Linked DNA regions of Homo sapiens: region 2 is linked to region 1. The links come from fine-mapping of genetic effects on gene expression. Tissue or cell type: whole blood. Region 1 holds a variant in brackets; the other region holds the start of a gene. All regions are shown on one strand. Distances are between the middles of the regions.

The links. PIP is the estimated chance that this variant, and not a neighbour inherited with it, causes the effect.
Region 2: it holds the start of CAMTA2, and the variant in region 1 is fine-mapped to the expression of CAMTA2 in whole blood (INTERVAL, PIP 0.93).

Annotation. Positions count from the first base shown.
Region 1 is chr17:4,837,156-4,845,406 of GRCh38, forward strand. All of the region lies in intron 1 of MINK1 (misshapen like kinase 1), which reads left to right. Among named protein-coding and RNA genes, the nearest start is that of MINK1, 7.9 kb to the left of the region's middle. The variant C/T (reference allele first, on the strand shown) is at 4,787.
Region 2 is chr17:4,983,503-4,991,502 of GRCh38, forward strand. It overlaps CAMTA2 (calmodulin binding transcription activator 2), which reads right to left and starts at 4,173. Exons shown (of 23, transcript NM_015099.4): 1 at 4,091-4,173; 2 at 2,690-2,784; 3 at 2,378-2,481. The coding sequence starts at 2,720. It overlaps INCA1 (inhibitor of CDK, cyclin A1 interacting protein 1), which reads right to left. Exons shown (of 7, transcript NM_001394789.1): 3 at 6,650-6,763; 4 at 6,388-6,427; 5 at 5,926-6,122; 6 at 5,277-5,442; 7 at 4,628-5,052. The coding sequence ends at 4,903. CAMTA2-AS1 (CAMTA2 antisense RNA 1) reads left to right here and starts at 4,242. Exons shown (of 3, transcript NR_187235.1): 1 at 4,242-4,723; 2 at 4,914-5,090; 3 at 5,185-6,443. RefSeq lists a silencer at 3,653-4,192.

The sequences.
Region 1 (8,251 bases):
CAGCTTGGGCGACAAAGCCAGACTCTGTTTCAAACAACAACAACAACTACAACAAACAGTTCGGTGAAAGCTAAGATTTTGGCTGTTTTGTTCATTTTTGTATCCCCAGTGCCTGTAAGCATGTTTTGCACATAATGGGGGCTCAAACGTTTGTTGCAGAAGTGCCTCTTACAACACGTGCCACTTACAACACAGTGCAGTGCTTGCTTAGAGAAAGTATTCAATAAACCCCAGGCTTCTTAGGCTTCATTTTGCCCCTCTTTTATTTATGCACAATTAAGAATATATTTTTTCTGGGATGTTTTTAGAATCAGACCTTGTCTGGGGTAAACAGTTCTGGAAGCCTCCAGCTGAGCGATGCCCTTGAAGTAAAGTTAGGATCATCCAAGAGAAAATGTGGGCCTCTGTGTCTAAGCTTGGTTATATTCCAGGAGAACCTTCTGACTTGGAACTCTTGGCTTCTCACAAAGGATAAATATCAGTGGAAGTGGATGGGACAAGGAGGGGGCAGGCCCCGGCCTGACCTCTTTCCTTTTGCATTGCTCCTTTTGGTTGACCCACTTCGTAAATCAAACAGCTTCTTTTTACCATCCAGCTCGAAGTTTGACTGCAGTGTCCTTGAAACTGTGGAGCTATGCTTAGCGTCGCTGGATTGAAATCATAGCATGGAGCACATTCAAGGAGGACTTGTTGCTCGGTGGTAGCTGCTGACAGAGATGTTCTTTTTCAAATGATTTTGTGTTGTTGTGTCTGTTCTTTGGATAAGTGTCTTCGCCTTCCTCCTCTCTTCATGCGGCTGTGGAGCCAGCACCACTCGGAAAGCTGGCAGTTCTGGGCATGTATTTCTAGGCTGCTGAGCAACGTGGGACTGCCTCTGTGTTCTGATGTGCTAGCTGTCCAAATGTTGATGACAGATGCCTTAGGCAGGAGAATGGGAAGAGTGACCTCCTGCTGCAGAAGTAAGGACATTCAATAGTGACTTTTTTCCCCTGGAAAATTGCAAAAGGGGAATGGGGCTGTTTGGAGAGCTCGAGGCATTTAGATGAAGTGAAATGCTGCCTTGGCAAAATGACGGAAGGAAGATTACTGAGAACTTGGCTGAAACTAGGTGATCAGTCATTCCCCAAACAGAGGGAGAGACATCCCCACCCTTTATGCTATGGGATAGGACAGTTTGCCATAGTCCTTAGGGATATACACAGCAGGGAGGTTTTGACAGTTAAGATAACAGTAAGGTCAGCAAGAGAGCCAGCTGGCCCACCCCCTCACTCTTGCCCCAGGAGCTCAATTAAAACTCTGCTGGGTAGAATCCTGACTTCACATCTGGCCTCCATTCCTTTCCGCATTGAACTGTGTGCCTAAGACAGGGTAGCACACACAACTTGCACATGTAAACCATCTTTGTTTGTCATTTAGGGGACATGATGGCAGGAAGTGTGCAGCCGCTCTTGATAAGCTTGTATTCTGGTGTAGGTCTGTAGATAAGGCATGCAGTAACCTCTCAACCCAGAAACATAAAGCAATTCTGGACTGGAGAACATCTCCAGAAGCCGGTGAGAGTCTGCCTGTCTAATATTTCTGTCTCCAGACAAAGTTGAATCAGAGAAAGTTATCAATAATCCCCTGTCCTCCACCAGTCAGTCGCCAAGCATTGGCAGTCTATGTATTGAGAATCAGGTTCCAGATTCTATGGAAAGGATGTAATATAGTACTCAGTCCTCTACTAAGCTATTTAACCAGATCTCTGGGGACATCCACCCAAGCAAAGCAATGCCTTTCCAAGCCTAGACTCTTTTTTTTTTTTTTGAGACGCAGTCTCGCACTGTCGCCCAGGCTGGAGTGCAGTGGCGCGATCTTGGCTCACTGCAAGCTCCACCTCCCAGGTTCACGCCATTCTCCTGCTTCAGCCTCCCGAGTAGCTGGGACTATAGGCGCCCGCCACAATGCCTGGCTAATTTTTTGTATTTTTAGTAGAGACGGGGTTTCACCGTGTTAGCCAGGATGGTCTTGATCTCCTGACCTTGTAATCTGCCCGCCTCAGCCTCCCAAAGTGCTGGGATTACAGGCGCGAGCCACCGTGCCCGGCCTAGACTCTTTTTCTTAACTGTTACTGTTTTCCTCAATATCCTGCAACCTTCAAGGTTGGGACATTTTTGTTAAACCTGATTTCCATGAATTACACTCATTTTCTGTGGTCAGTGGGCAGTCATCTTGAAACCTGGTCTTCAGCCCCACTCCCTTCGACACCTACTTTTTACTACTATCTGTCTCAGTCTTCTCTTTCCTGGATTGAAGACAGAACAAAAGTGATCAGGTTAATAAGTCAACTCTCAAAGCATTTCTTGAATTCACACAGAGTATAGTAAGATACAAAAACGTGACTTGGTAGAAGACTTGGATCCTGTCCACAGCTCACGGCCATTTGCTCTCTCCAGTTCTTTTGCCATTCTCCTCCGAACCAACCAGTCCTTGACTTGAGACTGGGCTTCTCTTATCTATAGGAAGCTCTTCTAGGGGGTAATGGAAAAAGGGTTTTGAGGCTCTTTGTTCTTACTAAGGGCGGGAATAGTAAAGGGAGGAGAGAAAAGAGGGATGGAATTGTAGTGACCCAAGAGAGCCCCTGGAGATTTTGTCCAGTGGCTAGACAGCCTGAGGTTGTACGTGCTACGTGTGGGTAGGATTTTGTGTTCTGTTTGAGGAAAGATCTAGAACTAGGCACAGAGGACACAGTGGTGATACAGTCTAGTAGTAGGGAGAGACATTAATCAAGTAATTATTTATTAATGTGTGTGTGTGTGTGTGTGTGTGTGTGTGTGTGTGTGTGTGTGTGATTGCAAGCCATGATAAGGACTGTAGTGAAAACTTTAACATGCCGTGGGCACATATAACAAGAGTTGTTTTGAGCATATGTTCTCAGGATCTCCTGAGGGCTGTGTCATGGAAAAAAAATTGCTTTTACGAGACAAAACTTTTATAAGACAAAAATATCTAGTTGATTGAGAGAGACGTAAATCATGTCAGAAAGCTAAACTGGCATTGCTGCAGAAAGATGAGATAGAGTTGAACCAGCAGGTAGAGTTTGGTGATGGTGAGAATTGGGAGACTCTGGAATGGGGCCATTCTTATGGTGAAGCATTTGGTCAACAATTGAGGGCAAGAAGCCTGAGGATGGGGTGGAAACTCCAGGCTTAATTCCAAAAGGATTTCTTCTGAATCTTCCTGTGGGAGGGGAAAAAAAATGGTTTATTTGTTTGTCTCAAAAGTTAAGAGCATGTATATGGAAAGAGCTTATGACTCATATAATCCTCATTTTTACTTACTGGGGGAGGGACTCTGGGTCCTGGGTCTGTAGTTTAGATGTGGCTCCTCAGAATGGGGTATATGAGAGAGGAGGGTGTATCCCTAGATGTTATTAGCCTAAGGGGTGCCTGGAGTTTGGAAGGTAGGTGAGTCTCACGGAAATAAGAACAAGTAGGCCCAGCCCTCAGCTTAGCTGCATGGTCTGTGGGAAGTGGGATTCTTTCTAACATTGGATAGATAGTGTATATAAATAGACAAGACTCTCCATTTACATTGTATACAAGTAAAGGATGAGTGGGGTGTGGAGGGGGAGTGTTACTGATTTTGCGTGTTTGAAAGGAAACAGGGTTGGGGAAGCCACAAGTCTTGGGCTTCCTGAAGGAGCCAGGCTCTGGGACCAGCTTGAATGTCGGGAGGATGGCAGCGTAGAAGACGGTGAGGTGGGCTGTGAGGAGAGTTTGGTGGCACAGCCTGTGGGAGGAGCCTGGGTGGCTGGAGAGAGATGAATGGAGGAAATGGGGACGAGCTGCCTAAGAAACGTGGTGATAGTTGGCGAGGGAGGAGACAGGAAGACCTTTGACAGAGGAGATAGCTGAGACCTCAGGTTCATCCACAGCAGGTAAATTCCAGGGCCACACGGGACAGGCGACGTGGGGAGTGTCTGTGGTCACAACTGGGGGCCCCAGCACTTAGAGCCTGTGACTCAGTATGTACACGTAGCACCAAATGCTTTTTGGTTCTGTCTTGGGCATCTCCGCACGGGCACTTCCGCCAGTGGTTTCTTCCATTGCCTTTGGGATGAGCAGGCCTCCTGAAAGCAGGCCTGATATTCTCTGGTCTTCTGACAAAGAATGGGAAATTTCTCACACCGTCTTGTTCCAGGAACCACCTGGGGATGGGATTTGAAGGGCTTGGGTTGCCGAATTGCTCCTAGAACCACAGGCTTAGAGGAGTTTTCTATGAACAGCGGTCCTGGCAGGGACAGACTGAGGATCGGTAGGGCTGAATGAAGACAATCCCACCTCCTTCAAGAGCCACCTCAACTTATGTTTTTTTCCCACAAAGCCCCCCCTCCGATTTTGCCAGCCTTTACTGATCACATCATCCACTTTCTCACAGACCTTACAATTTAGCATTGGCTTATATATTGCCTTATATTGAATAATGTTTTATGGTCTTGTTTTTCCTACCACTTCCTTATGTGTAGAGACTGTGATCCATATTTCCTCTTGATCCCTGTAAAGATGCTGAGCACACAGTAGGGGTTCAGAAATTACTTGGTAAGAGACATGGATCTAAGTATGTCTGTGACTGGACCTTTCCTACTAGATTCAATCCACAATTAGTACAGGGTGCCCAGTATATGCTGGGCACGGTGGGATACAAAGCAGTACAGGTGCTGACTCTGGTTCTCAGCCAGGGCACCGCTGGCCTCCAGGGGGTGTTCGGAAATGCTGAGGAGGGAGGATTAACTGTCTTGGGAGCA[C/T]CGGGCACGGTGGCTCACGCCTGTAATCCCAGCACTTTGGGAGGCCGAGGCGGGCGGATCACGAGGTCAGGAGATCGAGACCATCCTGGCTAACACGGTGAAACCCCGTCTCTACTAAAAATACAAAAAAAAATTAGCCGGGCGCGGTGGTGGGCGCCTGTAGTCCCAGCTACTTGGGAGGCTGAGGCAGGAGAATGGCATGAACCCGGGAGGCGGAGCTTGTAGTGAGCCTAGACCACGCCACTGCACTCCAGCCTGGGCGACAGAGCGAGACTCTGTCCAAAAAAAAAAAAAAACTGCCTTGGGAGCACTAACGGCATTTAGCACATGGGGATTGGGGATGTTAACCATCTGGCAGAGTCTGGGACAGTGCATCGAAGAACTGTTTTTCCACCCGTATTGCCACTGGTACCTCTCATGAACTTGTTATGGACATGGGAGAGACCCGGGGAGGGACTGGACAGGTTTCTTCCATGAAGTAGGAAGTAGTTCCTAAGTCCCCTGTGTACTTCTTTCCAGGTAGAGAGAGGAATGTGGGCTCTAAATTACCCTTGTGCATGGCACATATCTAGCAGCTTTTGTCTGCTAGCATACCTCTGGAGGTAAAATAGGTAGGCTCCCAGCCAGACTGTAAGGAAGATTTTCATGTTCTCTTTTCACCACCCACCCACTCTTTCTTTCAAGGCACATTTTTAAGAAAGTGGCTGAAGCTTGCAATACTTAGTCTTTAGTTCTAAGTGACTCAGGAAAGAGTCTTCAAGAAAACAGTTGGACAGAGTGCCCCAAAGCCTAAGCAGCGTGAGGCAAAGATAGGCAGGTGCATGTGGCGTCTTAGAGAGGGGCCAGCACATCGTCTCTTCTCTGGGGTCTTTTCATCCTACACTTGTCTTTTTGAAGACAGAGGTGTGGTGAATGAATGTCATTACTTACATCTGGGGGAGTGACCAGAGACAGTAGAAGACACCTTGCCCTAGTGTATCCTTTCAGGGTGGACCAGTGGCTGGGAAGCAGCACAGCTGAGCGGGATGAGCTGGAGCTGTGCAGAGCTGCCTTCCACAGCTCGCTGTTTCCCAGTCCCAGTCAAGAGAGCAGAACTTGGTAGGCTCCTGGCCTTGGGTAGCTAAGGTTTGGAGGAGGTGGAGAGAGTCCGCCTAACCTTAACAAGGTCATTCCTCACAGTGGAAACTACCTGAGCCCCACGTGTCGAAGCAGGGTAGGGGGAACAGGCAGGATGTGGATCAGAAGTTGGTTTGGGCTGGGCGCAGTGGCTCATGCCTGTAATCCCAGCACTTTGGGAGGCTGAGGCAGGCAGATTACTTGAGGTCAGGAGTTCGAGACCAGCCTGGCCAACATAGTGAAACCCTGTCTCTACTAAAAATACAAAAAATTAGCCAGGCATGGTGGGAGGCACCTGTAATCCCAGCTACTGGGGAGGGTGAGGCAGGAGAATCGCTTGAACTCAGGAGGCGGAGGTTGCAGTGAGCCTAGATTGCGTCACTGCACTCCAGCCTGGGCGACAGAACGAGACTCCGTCACAAAAAAAAAAGAAAGAAAAAGAAAAAGAAAAAAAAGGAAGTTGGTTGGTTCTAGTAAGTCCTTTTTCTGTCTGTCTTCTGTTTGGAACAAAGATTGCTGTGATAAAGTCATTTATATTATGATGCAGATTCATTTCAGAAGGGGGTGTTTGGGGTTGGAATAAGAACCGTAATGAACACTTACTGTGCAGTAGGTTCTTTCCTTCTGTAATCTCATTGTCCCTCACAAGAACCCTTTGAGGTGGACAATATTATCCTCATTTGCAAGATGAAGAAACCAAAGCTTACAGAAATTAACTTGGAAGTTAAGTAACTTGCCTGAGGTTGGACAGCCAGTAAGCAGCAGAGCCCACATTCAGACTCAAGTCTGACTCCAAAACCTGGGCTGCCATGCTGTTGGAGGGAGACCTGCTCCCACGTGGCGGTGGGTATTTGGGGGTGGGCACTGAGGGGAGGACAGGAGGGCAGTGTGTAGCTGGCACTCTAGACTACATGCAACTGGTATTGTTTTCTGCCTGTTTTTTGGTTTCTTTTTGCTTTTTTTGAGATGAACTCTTGCTCTGTTGCCCAGGCTGAAGTACAGTGGTGCGATCTAGGCTCACTGCAACCTCCACCTCCCAGGTTCAAGATCCTCCTGTCTCAGCCTCCCGAGTAGCTGGGATTACAGGTGCGCACCACCACACCTGGCTAATTTTTGTATTTTTAGTAGAGACAGGGTTTCACCATGTTGGTCAGGCTGGTCTCGAACTCCTGACCTCAGGTGATCCACCCACCTCGGCCTCCCAAAGTGCTGGGATTACAAATGTGAGCCACCGTGCCCGGCCTGCCTGTTTTAATTGTAAATGTGTGATATTTCTGTGACTTATGGTAAACAGGCTTTGTGGGCTTACTGAGGACTAAAACATTATCCATAACGTTTCTTGGTAAAGTTTTTGGAGACTTTTGGAATATGGCCTGTTTCATGGGCTGGAGACAGTCTGTATGAGAGATAGTTACTGCCCTCCAGGAGCACTTGGCCTCTAGATCTGTGTCTTAATAGAGGACACCTTTTATTCGTATACCTGGGTCTTTTTGAGGTGGGGAGAGTGAGTGACCTCAGCCTGAGCTGAACAGGTGGTGGGTTGGCACTGGGGAGCACATGTTGGGAATACAGAGCTCCACGGGGCTCGTACCCAGAACTAATAGAGATTTCTAAATGTAGGGCCGCTGGGTAGATCACTGTGATGATGAAGAGGACATGCAGAAGACTTCAGAATATTTGGTCTGCAGGAAAGATAGTCGAATAATTCAAAAGAAAGCCTCTTCAGAGGGAGGAGAGGAAGGCTGTCTCATTTCCCCCCACCCTTTAAAAATGTGTTGTTGTTGTTTTTTAATGTGATTAAGTATATGTAAGACTTACCATTATAACCATTTTTCAGCGTACACTTCTGTGGCATTAAGTGCATTCACATTGTTGTGCAACTGTAACCACTATCCATCTCCAGAACTTCTTCATCCTCCCCAAATGAAGCTCTGTACCCATTAAACACTGACTCTCTGAACCCTCCACCTTCCAGCCCCTGGCACCCACCATTCTGCATCTCATTGTCTTTTGTGTGTGCAGAGTTGAGCAGAGGGTCTGACCGAGCAGATGTTTAATATTTGTTGAGTCCGCCTAGGTGCATGTCTCAGAAGTCCATGTATCATCAGCCAACCCAGAACACAACCCCCCTCCCAGCTCTAATGCAAGATGACAGGCTTCTGAAAGGGATTTTAAATGAAATGGCTGTCTGGAATCACAAGAGGATTGGGCAGCAGCAAGAGAAGTTAAGGGTTTCTGTTCCGTATTCAGTTCCTTTTGCCACCCCCCAGCCATGACTTGCGTTCTGGTTCTGCTATGCTCATGTTCGTCATCTTGCTTGTTTTCAGCCTCTTACTTCATCTCATCCTG
Region 2 (8,000 bases), 150 kb after region 1:
TCGAACTCCTGACCTCAGGTGATCCACCCGCCTTGGCCTCCCAAAGTGCTGGGATTACAGGCGTGAGCCACCGTGCCCAGACTTTTTTTTTTTTCTTTTGAGGCAGAATCTTACTCTGTCACCCAGGCTGGAGTGCAATGGCATGATCTCAGCTCACTGCAACCTCCGCCCCCCAGGATCAAGCAATTCTCTTACCTCAGCCTCCAGAGTAGCTGCGATTACAGGCACTTGCCACCGTGCCCAGCTAATTTTTGTATTTTTAGTAGAAACGGGGTTTCACCATGTTGGCCATGCTGGTCTTGAACTCCTGACCTCTGGTGATCCGCCTACCTCAGCCTCTCAAAGTGCTGGGATTACAGGCATGAGCCACCACTCCTGGCCTCTGTGCCCCTTCCTGACTCAAAAAATTTCAGTGGTTTGACACTGCCAGGAATTTCAGATTATTTATTTATTTATTTATTTTTTTGAGACAGAGTCTCGCTCTGTCACCCAGGCTGGAGTGCAGTGGCGCCATCTCGGCTCACTGCAAGCTCTTCCTCCTGGGTTCATGCCATTCTCCTGCCTCAGCCTCCTGAGTAGCTGGGACTACAGGCGCCCACGACCACGCCCGGCTAATTTTTTGTATTTTTAGTAGAGACGGGGTTTCACTGTGTTAGCTAGGATGGTCTTGATCTCCCGACCTCGTGATCCACCCGCCTCAGCCTCCCAAAGTGCTGGGATTACAGGCGTGAGCCACTGTGCCTGGCAGGAGTTTCAGATTCTTTAGCCTGACTCCAAGGTTCTTCCCAACAAGGGATCAAACTTTCACTGTTCCCACTATTTACCCATATTGCTCCTACAATTCCTGCCAGATGGATCCATTGATTCCTTCCTGAACATGCTTTGAATAGTTACCTCCTGCATGTTAGTGCCCTACAAGGCAGGTACCATGTGCACACCTCTCCATATCTGGAAATCATAGCCATTCTATAAACCAAACCCCTTTTCAGATGCTCCATGAAGCCCTGCTGACCACACTGGACCTTCCTAAACGCTCTATAGCACTTACAACAATCACACATACACACATACACGCATCGTTTTACTGACAGTCCTCTTCTGACATCAAATTGATAAATATCAACAACCAACTACATACAAGGCAGTAAGTATGCAGAATACAGAAAATGTGTAACACAAGGACTGTGCCTCCTCCAGAAAGAGCCAGTATCAGTGGTGGTTAATAACAAAGGTTCCAGCCGGGCGTGGTGGCTCATGCCTGTAATCCTAGCACTGTAGGAGGCCGAGATGGGCGGATCACTAGGTCTAGAGTTCGAGACCAGCCTGGCCAACATAGTGAAACCCCATCTCTACTAAAAATACAAAAATTAGCCAGGTGTGGTGGCGTGCCTGTAGTCCCAGCTACTCCGGAGGCTGAGGCAGGAGAATGGCGTAAACCTGGGAGGCAGAGCTTGCAGTGAGCCGAGATCGCGCCACTGCACTCCAGCCTGGGCGACAGAGCGAGACTCCATCTCAAAAAAAAAACAAACAAAAATTAGCCGGGCGTGGAGGCACATGCCTGTAATCCCAGCTACTTGGGAGGCTGAGGCAGGGGAATCACTTGAATCCAGGAGGCGGGGGTTGCAGTGAGCCAAGATCGCGCCATTGTACTCCAGCCTGGGCAACAAGAGCGAGACTCCGTCTCAAAAAAAAAGGCCCTGGAGTAAGTTAGATAAACTATGAGGTAAATCAGTTTCCTCATCAATAACATAGGAGCAATAACAGGGCTTGCTCTATAGAACCGTTAGAGGATTAAATGAGACAAGGCAGGCCAAATGTTTAGCACGGTGCCCAGTATGTAAGGAATACTTTACTGGCAGTAGCTTTTGTTTTTACCCAGGTGGCTATGCCACAGAAAAGAGGGCTCCTTCAAGATCCATGTCTTTTTGTTTTTGTTTTTGAGACGGAGTCTCACTCTGTCACCCAGGCTGGAGTGCAGTGGCGTGATCTCAGCTCACTGCAGCCTCCGCCTCCCTGGCTCAAGTAATTCTCCCGCCTCAGCCTCTCGAGTAGCTGGGATTACAGGCGTACATCACCACGCCTGGCTGCTTTTTGTATTTTTAGTAGAGACGGGGTTCCACCATGTTTGCCAGGCTGGTCTTGAACTCCTGACCTCAGATGATCCACCCGCCTCAGCCTCCCAAAGTGCTGGGATTACAGGCATGAGCCACCATGCCCGGCCAAGATCCATGTTTTTATACCTCTCCTAGGATCCCCAAAGAGCTTAGAATGGTGCTCTGCACTTAGGAGTGTTGACAGACACGGAAAGACCCCCCACTCACCCTCCTCCAGCCTACTAGGTCTTGCTGGGCCCCAACCCCCAGCCTCCCTAGAAAACCTCATTTGTATTCCACCGTAGCCTCTCTGGAGGCAGCAGCGGGCAGCGAGGAAGACACTCCAGCAGCTTCTTGGGGAGAAAGATCTTCAGGTGGTGGCTGTTTTCTAAAGGGAATTAGAAGGGAGGGTTTAGTGTGCTACCCTGGGGCATCCCTGTGATAGTCCAAGGGGAAAGGGCTGAAGGCAATACAGAGCACTGGGGAAAACTGAAACCTCACTAAGGAGAACAGAAAATCCAAGAATTAGAGGGCCACTAAAGCGTGGGGAGAACGAAAGGCTGTGGCCACATTGGGAACCTGGTTTGTGAACTTACCAGCAACCTCGGTGGTGTCCTTGGTATTCATGGTGAGGGCTCCAGGGGGCAAGGTCACCCCCGGCCTGAGGGGCCGGGGGGAGGGGGAGTCTGTGCTGGGAAGGGAGAGAACAAGGTCATGGCAGAAGCCCCCACATTAATCCAGGATGAGAAGTATGAGGTAGGGAGTGGGTATAGAACTGGGTCATAGTATCTGGGAAGGATGAGGAAAGGGAGGGAGGGGCTGACTGTGATGTGACAGTAGAAGAGAGAACAACACACAGTGCCCGGAGCCAATATGAGTGAGCAGACTGGACAGGAAGAGTGAGCAGGAAGAAATGGGTTGGGGTGGGGGAGCGGGGAGAAGACTGGCAGGGCTTGGGCCTCAGAGGCCCTAAACCTTGAGCTTTTGCACAGACTGGGGCTATGGTTGGGTCAGGTCCTGGGGGTTGGGACTCAGGCCATCCGGTCCTTGGAGGATGGTTTGGCAAGAGAGCCTGGATCCTGGGGGCAGGGCAGGAGATTCTACCTCCGGTAGAAGCTAGGCCTTTAGAAGACACGCCCTGAGTTCCTTCTCTGTTTGATTTTTCCAAGGGGAAGGGCAGATCTGATAACTGAACCTAACCTATTCTCTCCTCCAGGTTGGTTAGGACCTGATAGAATCTGGGCCAGACACCCAGATTCCCACCCTCAGGACAACCCACCCTCCGGCTGACAGCCCTCTCTACGTAGCTCCCTCTCCCCAAACGCCTCTGCCTCCCCTGGCCTCCAGGCCTAGCCTACCCCATCTACCGCTCTGGCTCCAGCCTGAGCCCCCCGCCCTCCTCGGGGAACAGATGGGAGCTGGCGGAGGCTCTCAGCACGGGCTCCGCCAGGTGTCCAGGATGGAGATGGGAGGAGGCCCGTCGGGCTCGGCTATGTGCAGTGAAGCTGGGGTTGGGGTAAGGACTCCGCCCCAGGGCGCAGGTGCGCAGTCCTGGCTAGGCAGCCTGCCAGGGTGCGGAGCGGGAGCGGGTCCTTGGGCTGCACTTGGGCGGCGCCGGATCGGACGCTTGGCACTCTGGGCGGCCCCCCGGCGGAGTGGTGGTCCCAGGAGAACCTCCGAGGTGGGAGGGTCCCGCCCGCATAGAGGGATGTTCTGGAGAAGCCGGGAGCAGAGTCCGCGGGCACGCGGTGGGCGAGGGACAGTGCAGGTGCCGGGTGCGGGGGTCTCCGGGACAGTCCCCGGCACGCGCTGGTCCGCCGTGGGGCCCTGCGGTGAGCGGCGCCCCCTGGCGCGGGGGAGGAGGACGGAAGCGGGAGGTGAGGGCGAACCGGGAAGAGGGACGGTGGTCCCTGGCGCGGCGCTCCGCGTCGGGACCTGGAGGAGCTGCGCCCTCTGGCGCGGGGGCGGAGAGGCGGGCGAGAGGCCCTGGCTCTTACCTCCCGGGGTCCCGCGGGTGACGGCGGCAGCGGCCATTCTACCCCACACCGACCCCCCCCAGCGCCGGCTGACAGCGGCGTCTAACGTCACTGCGCACGGGGCGGGGCCTCCCAATTAAGGGGATGAGGGTCAGGAAGGGAACCTGGGGTCAGCACACGTGGAGTTCTGGGTGGGGCGCTGGGCAGAGGGACTCGGCTTCTAGGGCTCTGAGCCAGGCCGAGGGACAGACTGCTGGGAAGTCCCCAAAAGGGCAGCAGCACTGAGGGGCAGGATTCCAGGGTCCTGGAGGCGGAAGCTCGGCCGACTGACTCCCAGTTCGAGAGAACGGGGCGGGGGCAGCCCACCAGTGCTGGAACCCGAGGGGCCGGGCGAGGAACGCTGGACTGGGAGCAGGACCCTTCTCGCCTCGGACAAGACTCCTTGTCTGGGGACCCAGCCCGACTTCATTGTAGCTGGGTCCTCGAGAAAGCGAAAGGAGCCCTCCTTCCCCATTGGCCTCTCCATCGCTGCATCCCAAGAAGAAAGACAACTCGGGCTCCACTTGCTTGCTTTTTAATAACAGAGCAGAGAGAATACAAGGCCAGGAGCGGGGCCTGGAGGAAAACAGGACTTGGGGTGCTCCTGTGAGAGCGGTGGGTTGAGATGGGAGCCCACGGGGGCTGTTAATGCCTAGTTCAGAGGATGGGAAAGGCAGTTGGAGAGACGAAGGAAGGGGAAACGCCTTCATGTCAGCAATGAGGGTGACTCTAGTGACGGAACTAGTCTTGGGTCCCTGGGGCACCACTAGCCTCTCGGCATCGGTGGTTTCTCCTTACTCTTCAGACGCTGCCAACTCCATCCCCCAGGGATTGTGAAGGGGGTTCCTTCTGGCTGTGACAGTGCTGAACGAGGCCAGAGAGTGCAGCTGCCTGGAGGCACAAGCCTCCTCCTGATCCAGGGGGCTCCAGGGAGACCAAAGCAGCTGTCAAGATGAGAGAAATTGAAAAAGAAAATGGAAAAGTAGGTCTTCTTTCCAGATTTCCTAGTACCCAAGCTTAGGTACCTCGAAGTCTCTGGTTCTCACCTACGTTATTTTTGTTTCTCTCAAATCCAGCTCTCCAGCCTGGCTCTCAGCTTCTGCATCTCCATGCAAGACCAGAGACCCACATCACTCCCTCACTCCACCCAGTTCCACTCCAACAATACCTGGGCCCTGCCAGGAGTGAGAAAACGGTCCTCTTCCTGTGGATAGGTTGCTCTCTCCTCTTCCAGATCAGGGTATTCATTGGTGCTGGGGAATCCACAGCCCTCTTCGCCAAGCACCACTGGCTCAGATGCAGCCCCAGAGCTGCCCCACTGGGCCTTCTTCAGTCTGTGGAGACTTTAGGCTGAGGAGAGAAGTGCCTGGAGGCCAGGCTTCCTGTCTCTCCATTCTTCACCTTTCTGTTCTGAAATACTTCCTGCTGGGACTCCAGGGAGTTGTCATTTGACCTTTAACCCTCCACTCCCAATTTTCTGCTCCCCTCAGACTGAAGCATATTGTCTAGGAACCCAGAGGTGACCCCAACCTCCCCACTGTCCTCCAGTTCTATGGTTTGCTTTCCTGTCTTCAGTGATCTAGTTTCCACTCCTTCCAGCTCATGTGGCTCATCCTCCTTACTGCAGTTCCCTCCTTCTTTCCATATTACAGAAATCTGTTTCAATCACACCAAAGCCCACAGCTTCCTTCCAAGCAACCTCCCCTCAAAGCTCCCCTCAAACCTCCCCTCAAAGCTGTCAACCCCTTCCTTAGCTCAAACTGTTCTGCCCCCAAATCCTGCATGACTCCCAGAACCCAGATGTCTCCCTTCCTTACTCGTTGATGATGCTCTGACGCCTTCTTAGGTCCTCCAGGTGGTAAGTGACAGCCCTCACCCGGGCGGGGACTCCCCCAAGGCCCTGCTGCTGCATTCCTTCCAAACATGGCCTCCTCTTCTTTCTTCTCCAAAGCATTTCAGGGGGTGGGAGCTGCTCAGGAGGATACAGACCAAGCTGGGAGCAACCAGTGGCTCTCTGTGCCAGAGAATGGGGAAAAAGAGCTAGAAAGAAGAACTGGCTCTCTCAAGGGAGCTTGGATTGAACTAGGTAGGGAGTCTGGGGTCTTGGGAAGACCCCTGTGATCTCGAAAACATGATGACTGATTCATAGAAAGGAAGGCCTGGTCAGTGCACTGGTTGGGGAATAACAGAGGGAAGCGGTAATAAGGAGAGCTTGGGACAGGACAGCAGTGGGTGCAATTTTAACAGAGAAATGTTAAACGGCAGAGGGTCTGTCTTACCAGCATGGGTGGAATGTGCTGCTCCTCCAGCCAAGTGGGGCTGTGAAGAACAAAAAGGGGGCTATAAGTGCAGAGGGGACATGTCCATCCATATTGCTTCTTTAATAATCTCTCCCGACCTCCTTTCTGTCATTAGGAGCTACAATGTCCACCAGCCAGTGGGAAATTAACCGCAGACTAGGGCCTATTGCTATATGGGTTTATGGTAGTTTAATCCAGTTAAGACCACATCCAGTTAGTTTCCATTTTCTCCTCTACTCACGTGGGCCTTTGATTAAGGTTCTTCCAGAAGACATCTCCATAACGCTGGGGCATGGGTCTGAGGCTCTGGGAAGGCAACCTTGGGGGTGGAGATCGGCTGACCACCCTGGAACACCTGAGGTGAGGACAAGGTAGGCTCGGGTCTGGCTCTTCCCTTACAGCAGTCTACTCATCCCAAGGATTCAGGGGCCATCTTTCCATGGGACTATAAAGCTGCCCAGGTTCCCTCGGGCCATGTCCTCTCTTAACCACTTTAGCTGAAGAAGGTGGTAAGGCCTCTGCTTTGAAAGGAAATTGAAGCTGGGTTGAGGGTGGAGATTGGCTATAGTTTGACCCTCAGATCTCACTGAGTTTAAGCTCTATATCGGGGATGTCCAATCTTTTGGCTTCCTGGGCCACATTGGAAGAAGAAAAATTGTCTTGGGCCACACATAAAGTACACTAACACTGGCCGGGCGTGGTGGCTCATGCCTGTAATCCCAGCACTTTGGGAGGCTGATGTGGGTGGATCACCTGAGGTCTGGAGTCCAAGACCAGCCTGGCCAACATGTTGAAACCCCGTCTCTACTAAAATCACAAAAAATTAGCCAGGCGTGGTGGCGGGCACCTGTAATCCCAGCTACTCGGGAGGCTGAGGCAGGAGAATCACTTGAACCCGGGAGGAGGAGGTTGCAGTGAGTCGAAATCGCGCCATTGCACTCCAGCTTGGGTGACAAGAGAGAAACTCCGTCTCAAAAAAAAAATTGCAAAAAATCTCATAATATTTTATTTTATTTATGTATTTATTGAGACCGTTTCACTCTTGTCACCCAGGCTGGAGTGCAATGGCACGATCTCGGCTCACTGCAACCTCCACCTCCCGGGTTCAAGTGATTCTCCTGCCTCAGCCTCCCGAGTAGCTGGGATTACAGGCACCCACTACCACGCCCGGCCAATTTTGTATTTTTAGTAGAGACGGGGTTTTGCCATGTTAGCCAGGCTGGTCTTGAACTCCTGACCTCAGGTGATCCACCCGCCTCGGCCTCCCAAAGTGCTGGGATTACAGGTGTGAGCCATTGTGCCCGGCCTAATCTCAACGTTTTAAGAAAGTTTATGAATTTGTGTTGGACTGCTTCAAAGCCATCCTAGGCCGCAGGTTGGACAAGCTTGCTTTATACCTCATAGTTAGAGAAGGTAATATTTAGCAAGCAGAGTTGTTAAAGAGGAAGGCCTTGGCTACTCAGGTTATATGACAGATAGGATTCATTTAGGTCAATGCAAGGATCCAGGGGAGAGAACCTCTGTTTACTTCATTTGTCTCCCCATCTCAAAAGGACTAATATCCTTGTAAATAGGAGTGTGCAGAGCTGTTT